2 separate regions of the Homo sapiens genome follow, and region 2 is linked to region 1. The links come from fine-mapping of genetic effects on gene expression. A gene starts in region 1. The other region holds a variant in brackets. All regions are shown on one strand. Distances are between the middles of the regions.

Region 1 (5,000 bases):
ATGGTGGGTCGGGTGGGTGCATCGCCCGAGGGGCCCCTGGAGGGGAGAGCTGGGGGAGGGGGTGTCCTGGGCCTAGTTCCATCCCACAGCTACTTTCCTTCACTGAACAGGAGACCTCCCCTACGACCTCAGAACTCTCCTTTTGCAAATGAGGAAACAAACCCAAAGAGGGGAATAACTTGCTCGGATTGCCCAGTAAATTACAGCTGAGGCAAAAACCCAGGGACCTGGCTTCTGATCCAGAGCTTTTTACAATCCCTCACACCACATCGGGACCTCTAAATGAAACTGCTCTGAAACACCATGTCTGGGCTTTCATTCAAAAGACCAAGAAAAAAAAGGTGTGTGGTGGTGGGCGGGGGTGTCAGGGCATAGATGAAACGGTATTGGCAAAATATGGATAAGGTTTAAAGCTACTTGATGGAAGGGCTGCAGTTCACACATCTCAGTCCCACTGACTAGTCCTTTCGGGCTTTGGGTGCTGTCCAGACCCAGTAGAAACCCAGCTATCTTGGGTTGGATGTAGATGCAAATCCACCTTGGACTCCCAAAGTACCTATAGGAGCCAGAACCAATAATTGGGAGCTTCAAGATCTGGTCACAGGGGATGTCATTTCCTTAAGGCAGGATTGGACCCCAAGAGAGGAACCTCCAACAGAGAGAAAATCACCAGACTTGACCGACCCAGGCCTCAAAGAACGTTGCTCCACTCATTCCTGGGCTCCTCTCACTAACAGCTAGCCCCTTAAACCCCAACTTTTTTTTTCTTTTTTTCTGAGACAGTGTCTCGCTCTGACAGCCGGGTTGAAGGGCAGCGGCATGATCATAGCTCACTGCATCCTCAACCTCCTGGGTTCAAGTGATCCTCCCAACTCAGCCTCCCAAGTAGCTGGGCCTACAGACGTACACCACCACACCTGGCTAATTTTTGTATTCTTTGTACAGATGGGGTCTTGTCATGTTGCCCAGGCTGGTCTTGAACTCCTGGGCTAAAGCAATCCTCCCACTTCGGTCTCCCAAAGTGCTGGGATTACAGGCTTGAGCCACTTTACCTAGCCCCAAACTTTTTAAAATTGGCTAATCGGGACTAAATATCATGAAAGAGTGCGACGTGGTCGGTTAAACAAGGACAACCCCGTTGTCCGTGTCTGAAGACCACTGCACATTTCCCAAAAGCAAATTTCGAAGTGGAGAATTTAGAAACCAACTTCCCAGATGAAGGATCCCACAGAGAAGTGAGTCCGTGGAAATGATAGAATCGCCCGGTTCCTTTCTCTAAACTCCGACTTCCTTTCCCCAAGGACATCCCAGGAGGGTTCAAACGCGCCCTCTCTAAGGCACTCTGCCAGGTCTCCTGATTTCCAGTTTCCGGGAGGTGAGGCCGGCTAGGGTGCCCCGAGGGCCTGCTCTAGAGAAAACCGCCCTCAGGTGAGGACGGCTTCCATTTCCGGGTCTGAAGATAAGGAACAGCTTATCTTCGGTCTCCGCCCTCCTGCCTGCAACCCTCACCCACTGACCACGCCGGCCAGTCCGCCGCGCCAGGGCTGCCCTTGGCCTGGTCCCCGGGTCTCGGTGGACCTTCGACCCGGGCCTCCCAGCTCTGGCCTCCTGCATCCACCCCGCCCCGACCTCAAGCTGCTTCCGGAATAGAATGAAATCCAGCTCGTTAAGCTTCGCGGGGAGGTGTGTCCACCCGCCCCGCGCCGACTCCGGCCGCACTGTCGCACTTCACTCGCACCAGCCAGTGGCCAAAGTGCTTGGGCACCTATTGCGCCAGGCCAGGAGCCGGAAGTCTTACCTCGCCCTCACCCCAACTCTTTGCCCCACGTTCCCGATAAGAACATGGAGGCTCGGAGAGATTAATTTGCCCACGTGCAAGCGGCAGCTAAGGGGCGGACGCGGAACTTGAACCGTGTCCCTCCTAAACCTGCCCCTTGTCCGCCGCAACGCGCCCTCGACGCGCACAAAACCCTCACTTTGCTACTGAGGAAAGTTATTCAATGGCCAGAGACACCCTGCGGCTTTTGAAAAGAGGTTTCAGGCTGACAAATATCCATATATACATATATATTTATATTTAAGCCTAAAACGACTCTTTGATCCCTCCCCTAAGACCTCCTTCCCGTCCGCCTAGGCCTCGGTATCCCCCACCAGGTATGAGAAGGAGGAGTCTTCATTCTTCCCAGGCGGGGAGACCACGCCTTCCCTGCCTCCTCCCTCCGCGGGGGGTCGCGTTGGAGGTCACCCCCGCCCCCTAGGCGCTGGGTTGGGAGTGACGCGGGGTGGGCTGGAGAGGTTTCCTGCCGTCTGGGAAGCGTAAACGGACCGCCCACCTGTCGGGCCTCGGCCGCCCGCACCTGCTTGTGAGAAGCCTGCGGCTGGGGCACCGCCCCCGGTCCCCGCCCGGGTCCGCGCATTGGGAGCACACTGGCCCTTTAAGAGCGCGGCGGCCGCGGCGCGCGGGGAGGAGGGCTGGGAGCGCCCGGAGCCGCGCTGAACTCGCCGGGGACGTCGGGCGCCCGCTCCTTGGCTGGCTCGCTTGCTCTCTCGCTCGCTCTCTCGGGTCGGCTCCCTGCGCCTCCTCCCGGGACTGCTTGGGGACCCGGGCCCGGTCGGGCGCGGCGGCGAGCAGAATCCCCGTGCAGGAGGCGCGCGCTCCGGGCAGCGCCCGGCCCCGGGCATGGACAGAGGGAGCTGGGCGCGCAGGGAGCGCCGCGGGACCGGGCGGCCGGAGCGCTGAGCCAGACAAAGGCTCCGGAGTTGCGCTTGCTCTCGGGAGCCGGGCCCCAGGCGCTGGGCGCCGAGGCTGCGGAACCTCGCCGGGGGCAGCTCCGGTCGGCCCCCTTTCCCGCCGGCTGGTTCCGAGCTCCCGGACCTGCCCTGCCCGCTTCTCCTCGGGCTTGGGAATTTGCCGAGGCGACCTAGGCGGCTCCGGCGGGGACCGGGAGCCCGAGGTCCGCGGCGCGCCTGCCGGGCCAGGAGCCAGGGAGCGTCGCAAGTTTCCAAGGCGCGTGCGAGGATCCGGCGTGCAGTGTTCCGAGCTGGGCTGGGCGCCGAGAGCATGGGCAGCGACCCGAGCGCGCCCGGACGGCCGGGCTGGACGGGCAGCCTCCTCGGCGACCGGGAGGAGGCGGCGCGGCCGCGACTGCTGCCGCTGCTCCTGGTGCTTCTGGGCTGCCTGGGCCTTGGCGTAGCGGCCGAAGACGCGGAGGTCCATGCCGAGGTAAGACCCCCGCCCTGCCCTTTGGCTGCGGGCTGGGGGCTTGGAGGGAGAGGCGCCACGTCCGCAGGCTGGGACTTGGAGGTGGAGGGAGCGGAGACGCGCCCCCTGTTCTGGGCCGTGGCGGGGAAGCAAGCGGACTTGGCAGTCTGCCCCTCCCCAGCTCGCCCTCTGCAGCGCACCTCTTCGCAAACCCTTGAGGGCGCAGGGCCTCGCTCTCCTCCCCGCTACTCCTACAGCCCTGTTCTGGGCACTGAGCCCCCACCCCGACCCCCTTACATTCAGCCTGTGTCCCGGGAGCCGCTTCCGCCGCCCCCAGCCCTTGCCTCCCCTCCTTCCTTCCCTCCAGGGCAGCCGATTCCTCGAGAGCCCGGCTGGCGCGCAGTGGCGCTCTTTGCGAGTGGGGAGGGGGCTGCTCTCGGGGACAGCCACAGGCGGAGCAAGAGCTGGGCGGCTGGGCAACTGCGCTCCTGCCCAGGTGGCCTCCCGTCTGGGTGATACCGAGCCGCGCACGGCGGGCCAGGATGGAGGCGGGGGGATGGGTGCAAACGGCTGAGGCAGCGGACTCGGGTTGCGGGGGCGCTTTGGCGACTTTCTGCGCTTTTGCGAGGAAGCCTAGGCACGCCCGGGCGGGGTCCTAAGGACGGACCCTGCCTCCCACAGCGCTTCCTCCCAACAGCGCCCCTACGTCGAAGCCCTGGATTCGAGAGGGTGGACCCCGCGCCTCTCTTCGCTAGGAGCCCGCTTGGCGTCCCTCCCGGGGCCCCGCTCTGGATGGGTCCCGCGGGTGACCAGGCGCGACATCCCGGCGTAGAGCCGAGTCCAGCCAGCGCCCCAGCTCCATGGTGTCTCCCGAGCGAGGACACCGAAGGCGCCAGCTTTCTTGCCCCAGAGCAAGAGCAGGGTCCACTCTTCCCCGACTTCTAAGACCTGCGCCCTGCCCCAGATAGGCGGGGAGAGGACTTGGGCGGGGAGTAGGGAGAAAGAACCACCCCGGAGCCGCTTCTGAACGGTGCTCAGGCCTTGGTGCCCTTGGGCTGCCCGGGCTGCGGGCCTGAGCGCCGTTTCTATTTGCAGCTCAGCTGGTGCTCCCTCCCTGGCCCACGGCGGCTTTCCCACCTCTCCGGGCTGCCTGGGAGATTTTTCCGATGGAAGCTTGCCCTTCCCCGCCCTACTTTAATAAAAGCATAGAGGAAGGGCAGGGAATTCCTCCTGGGCTCGAGTTACACCTCCCAGCCATTTCCCCACCTGCTCTGCCCTCCCTCCCTGGCCTGGCCAGGGAGAGCTGAAGGAGGAGCCAGGCCCTGGTGGGAGGCAGGATAGGAGCCCCGCCCCGACCCAGTCTGGCCACCCTCCCCCACCCCATTCACACAGGCAGGAGGAGCTTTAGGGGGCTCCTGTTGGTGAGGATTACCCCTCAGCCTGTGACCCAAGTACTGGGCGGAGAGTGCCATTTGGGCCCACCTGCCACTCTGGGCTGGAGTGCCAAAGAATTTCAAGTCACAGTCCCACCATTGAGTTTCTAATCTACTTAGGGATGGCGTCAATACATAGGAAGCAGTGATGGAATTCAATGGCCGTGCATTGCTAATGGCATCCTAGCTGGCCAGGAGCTCAGGGGTGCAGGGACCTGTAGTTGGAGGGGCTTCACTCTCTCTCTCTTCTGCTTTTCCAGTTCCATCTCACCCCTACCCCAACTCCCCAGCTCAGGGAGTGCCCACAGCTCGATGCCGCCAGGGAAGAAGCCATGGTTGCGTTATCACAAACCGTGCTCCTGATC
Region 2 (5,512 bases), 84 kb after region 1:
TGAACTCCTGACCTCAGGTGATCCACCTGCCTCGGCCTCCCAAAGTGCTGAGATTACAGGTGTGAGCCACTGCACCCGGCTGGAACTCTCCTTTCTAAAACCATCAGACCAGCAGGGCATGGTGGCTCATGCCTGTAATCCCAGCACTTTGGGAGGCCAAGTCTGGTGGATCACCTGATGTCAGAAGTTTTAGACCAGCCATGCCAAAATGGTGAAGCCTCGTCTTTACTAAAACTACAAAAAAAGTTAGCCAGGCATGGTGGTGTGCACCTGTAATCCCAGCTACTCCAGAGGCTGAGGCAGGAGAATCACTCCTGGGAGGCGGAGGTTTCAGTGAGCTAAGATCATGCCACTGCACTCCAGCTTGGGTGACAGAGCAAGACTCTGTCTCAATAATAATAATAATAATAATAATAATTAAATAAAACCATCAGATCTCATGAGACTTATTCACTATCACAAGAACAGCATGGCAAAGACCCGCCACCAGGTCCCTCTCACAACACAGGGGAGTTATGGAAGCTACAATTTGAGACTTGGGTGGAGACACAGCCAAACCATATCATCATACATCCTAAAACATGCACTTCCACCGAGCTTTAGGTGTAGGTGGCATGAACCTATTTTGCATGCTCACTAATAATTTTTTTTCTCCTTCCTTAAGGGCTGAGATTTGCTTTCATTGTAGCACACTACCAGCAGTCAGGTGGAGGGAATGAGAACTACAGCTCTCCCTGCCTTTTACTGCTGGGGGCTTAGGTCAGTTTCTAATACCAAGAAAAGAGGTCTCAGGCTTGTAAAGAGGCTTTAGGTTCAAGTAAACATGAGGACAGTCTTGGAGGATGGGAAGGAGCTTTGGAGAGTGACTTGGAACCCAAAGGCTAGTGTATTTATGGCCCGATTTTACTGTATTTATTGATTTTACTGTATTCCCTCCAAAATACCAGGATTTACAATTTAAGACTTTATGGAAACAGGGGCTGGGGGATACCCAAGTGATGAGAGAACCCATGGAGGCTTATATTGATATTTATTGCTGTCATTCAATAGAAGAGTAGAGGAGCTTGGTGACCTTTTATACCCCTTTAACAAGGGGTTCTGTTCAATCCCTTTCCATATCCACCCCTGGCACACTGTTTTGCTTTGCTTCGCTTCAGACACCATGGATACCAAGAGGCATGATTTTTCCAAGGCTCATGCTCTATCCAGATGTTCAATGTCTTGTGGATTTGCAATTTGGAGTGCCTCTATCACAGCCCAGAGGCACTCGTGATTTGCATTACAGGACCTCACACTTTCAGGTTATGGAAAATGTATGGAGATGTCAATGACATATTAGAATTCTGTATAAAAGGAGGAACTTAAGGGTTCTTTTGTTTGTTTGTTTTTGGTAGGAGGAGGTTGCAATCTGCAGATGTGCCTGGGTGGTGGGTGGGGGCGGGGAGGGCGGTGTTTTACGTTTCTTTTCTCTCCCAGCAGTGTCTGACCTCTCTACGCTCAGATGTATCATATCCACTCACTCAAATGTGGAGCCACTCTCAGATGACAGAATCACCAAAAAACACCAGGAGAAGGTATTAAGATGCAGATTTCTGGGTTGGCTTTAGACAGAGAGAGAGAATAAAAATGTTATCTCTTGGGGTGGGGACAATTGTCATTTTAATAAGCTGGGTCCCAGAAATATGCATTTTAAATAGGCCAGGGCCAAGGACTCTGAATTTGCTGGATTTTTATTTATTTTTTTAGAGTGTTGCTCTGTTACCCAGGCTGGAGTGCAGTGGTGCAATCATAGCTCACTGCAGCCTCCACCTCCCCGACTCAAGTGATCCTCCCACCTCAGACTCCCCAGTAGCTGAGACTACAGATGCATGCTACCATGCCTGGCTAAGTTTTTTATTTTCTGTAGAGATGGGGTCTCGGTGTGTTGCCTGGGCTGGTCTTAAATTCCTGGTCCCAGGTGATCATCCCGCCTTGGCTTCCCAAAGTGCTGGGATTACAGGCATGAACCACTGTGCCTGGCCCAGCAACATAATTTAAGAATATGAATTAAAATTCAGTAGATTCATCTTCCTGTGGGAAAGGTACATTGTGCACCCCCCGCCCTCCAACCAATTAGGTCTATCCTTATTTATTTAGAGACAGTCTTGCTCTGTTGCCCAGGCTGGAGTGCAGTGGCACAATCTTGGCTTACTGCAACCTACGCCTCCCGGGTTCAAGCGATTTTCCTGACTCAGCCTCCTGAGTAGCTGGGATTACAGGTGCCCACCATGCCCAGCTAATTTTTACGTTTTTAGTAGAGACAGGGTTTCACCATGTTGGCCAGGCTGGTTTCAAACTTCTGACTTCAGTTGTTCTTTTCGCCTCGGCCTCCCAAAGTGCTGGGATTGCAGGCATGAGCCACTGTGCCCGGCCTATTCAAGTCTATTCTAGATGCCTTATGAGCAGACACTTGTGCTCAGCATCAGGAGCCTGACCTTCTAGCAGGAAGCCCTAGGCTTTATTCCCAGCTCTGGCCCATGTGAGCCATGCAGCCCCTGTGAGCTATTTAACTTCTGTGCTTGTCCATAGATGGGGGCAGCGCCACATATAACCTTCCAGACAGGATCCCAAGGGCGCCACATGCAACGGCTATGAAAGCATGCTACCTTCTGAAAAGCACTGCCATGTACTGCGTGGGTCTCCATTGTCGTTAGAAGTCATCTGCAGTGCCAGGCCTTCCCAGGCTCCTGAGAGAACACACATGACAGCGATCAGGAAACTGAAAAAGCTGTTCATGCTAGGC[G/A]GCTGGGTGCAGGAAGAAAGGGCAACTACATTCTGTTAATACATTCGGGTGCTGTCATTTCAGAAATGGGAAGTGGGACTTATATGTTACTTTATATTCTTTCTTTTTTTTTTTTGAGATGGAGTTTCACTCTTGTTGCCCAGGCTGGAGTACAGTGGTGCGATCTCAGCTCACTGCAACCTCCGCCTCCCAAGTTCCAGCAATTCTCCTGCCTCTGCCTTCTGAGTAGCTGGGATTAGCAGTGCACGCCACCACGCCCGGCTAATTTTTTTGTATTTTAGTAGAGATGGGCTTTCATCCTGTTGGCCAGGCTGGTCTCAAACTCCTGATCTCAAGTGATCCACCTGCCTCGAACTCCCAAAGTGCTGGGATTACAGGCGTGCCCAGCCCTTCATATTCTTTGAACCATGAGCTCATGAATGTACCATGAGCATGTATTACTTTTATGATTCCCTGGTTAAACACAAATGAGATTTTTACTGTCAGCCTCAGACCCTTGTGTTCAACTAATATGTGACCACATAGTGACTGGGCAGGCCAGCCCTCACTGCTGGGCAGAGCTGACTCCAGTGCTTGATGCAAGGGGATGCCAACACAAAAGAGGACAGGGATGGCATATGGGTCTCCTCAGGAGCATGGGGTCCTCGTTCCACCCCGTTGTTTCTAGAGGGGCTAGCCCATCCCTCTCTGGGCTTCAGTGTCCTGATCAGTAAAATGAGGGGATGAGGATGCAGACAAGAGCTGCAAGATCTTTTTCAGTGAATTTCCTGACACTTAGGGCTTCTGGGTGAAGCCACTGAGGGGCTAGGGACATCGGTTTGGGGTTGTTCTCTGGGATTCTTGCAACCTTCAGAAATGCCCCAGGAGCTGACTGGTGTGGCGCCGGCCAGTCTTCTAGCCTGGCTATAGAGGAAGCAATCAACGGGCCAGGGGCAATTAAGGGCCAGAGTAAATCTACTCTCCCCCAGAATCAGCCCTGTTGGGAACGGCTGTGTGCTATTCCAAGTTCATGCCAATTAACTAACACTCTCTCATTTAGAGGGCAATTCCTTCTAAAACACACTGTGACTTCCAAGGAGCTGGATAATGCAATTCTGCCTGCTCCAATTACCGTGATCCGAGATCACCCAGGCCCAAACTCCATGAGGGCGCCTCAGCCCAGCAGCCTGTCATTCCCTCTTCCCTCAGCCTCACTGGAGGTTGTCGTCTTCCTGGGGAGCTGGAAAGCTGCAGGCAAGGGGCTGTGCAGTCATGACACCACTATTCACCCTGGCCTGGGGCCAGCTCAGATAATACCTCTCATCACCCCCGGGGCCCCTCGCTTCCTTCTTCCTCTGGGATGGGTATGTGAGGCATCTGGGAAGTCACCACCTACCACCCCAAAGGGTGGTGAGGTAATCCCCAGACACGGTCTAACAAGTGCCTGGGGTGAAAGAGGCTCTGTGTGGAGGAGAGTGCCTCCCTGTGTTGCTCTGAACCCCCAGGAGCACTTCACTGATATCCTGGCACCCAGAAGAGATGAGAAGTTAACGCGGTTTTCTTGTCATCACAAAAGCATCTTTCATGCCATAATCGAGTCTGGATTGGAGGGAAGATTTCACTAGACAGTGGCCAGAGGCTAGACACTCTGTTGGTTATTGCCCACCCCTCCACCCACTCAGCCATTTGAGGATTCCTATTGTAAGCAAGAAAGTGAAGGAGACAGGCACACTGCCTAAGAGGGGGATGCTGACATGCTAAGCACAGGGAAGCAGGACGACGTTCAGTTTTGACCAGAGTTAGCCCTGCAAGAGCAGGCTCTGTCACCTGGGCTGAGGGGGTGTGTTCTGTGATGCTGATGACTAGGGACTCAAAGGAGAGGGGCAGCATCCTCCAGAAGGTGGCTCCAGGCTGGTCACCAGCAGAAGGAAAAAGGGGAAAGTTGTCTTAACTGCGCCCACCTGAGTTTCAGGCACTTGACAACTGTCTCATCAGGTAGCTGTGGAGCACCCTCCCCTCCACTTCTCCACCTCCTGTAGCCCCTGCCTCCTCAGAGACTTGGCCATGCTTCCCCACAGCATACTCTGGAGGATACGGATGTGGGGAAAGCGTGCTTCCTGCCATTTAACTTCTCAGAAGGCAGCAATGGTAATGACAAATCCCAGAACTTAATGTTTTTACCTCTAACCAAAGTCAAAATGGCAGGTGCCCACAGTTCCAGTCTGTGCAATGACAGCAAACCCCGGGGAGTGACTGGGGAGGGCACAGAATCTGGAATAGCCTTTTGCTCTTGCATTAACTTTGAAATTTTTATTACAAAAATGTCTTTCCAAAAAAAATTTTTTTTTTGAGATAGAGTCTTGCTGTTACCCAGGCTGGAGTACAGTGGCACTATCTCAGCTCACTGCAACCTCTGCCTCCCAGGTTCAAGCAATTCTCCTGCCTCAGCCTCCCAAGCAGCTGGGATTACAGAAGCGCGCCACCACACCCAGCTAATTTTTTATATTTGGTAGAGATGGGGTTTCACCATGTTGGCCAGGCTGGTCTCAAACTCCTGACCTCAAGTGATCTGCCTGCCTTGGCCTCCCAAAGTGTTGGGATTACAGGCGTGAGCCACCACGCCTGGCCAAAAACATTGTTTTTTTTAATAGTAGAAGAGAGTATACAAGTGATTTAAAAAAACACAACAAAATCATTCTGCCCAGGTAATCACTGTATTAGTTGTGTGTCCTTCAAGATCATATAGGACAC

Evidence for each region.
Region 2: its variant is fine-mapped to the expression of MMP15 in whole blood (INTERVAL, PIP above 0.99). The same link has a PIP of 0.9 or more in blood mononuclear cells.

The regions. Positions count from the first base shown.
Region 1 is chr16:58,023,290-58,028,289 of GRCh38, forward strand. It overlaps MMP15 (matrix metallopeptidase 15), which reads left to right and starts at 2,465. Exons shown (of 10, transcript NM_002428.4): 1 at 2,465-3,223. The coding sequence starts at 3,062. RefSeq lists enhancers at 1,074-1,661, 1,662-2,247, 2,480-3,029, 3,580-4,129 and a silencer at 2,474-2,613.
Region 2 is chr16:58,106,706-58,112,217 of GRCh38, forward strand. No RefSeq gene overlaps it. Among named protein-coding and RNA genes, the nearest start is that of CFAP20, 20 kb to the right of the region's middle. RefSeq lists an enhancer at 2,733-2,782. The variant G/A (reference allele first, on the strand shown) is at 2,783.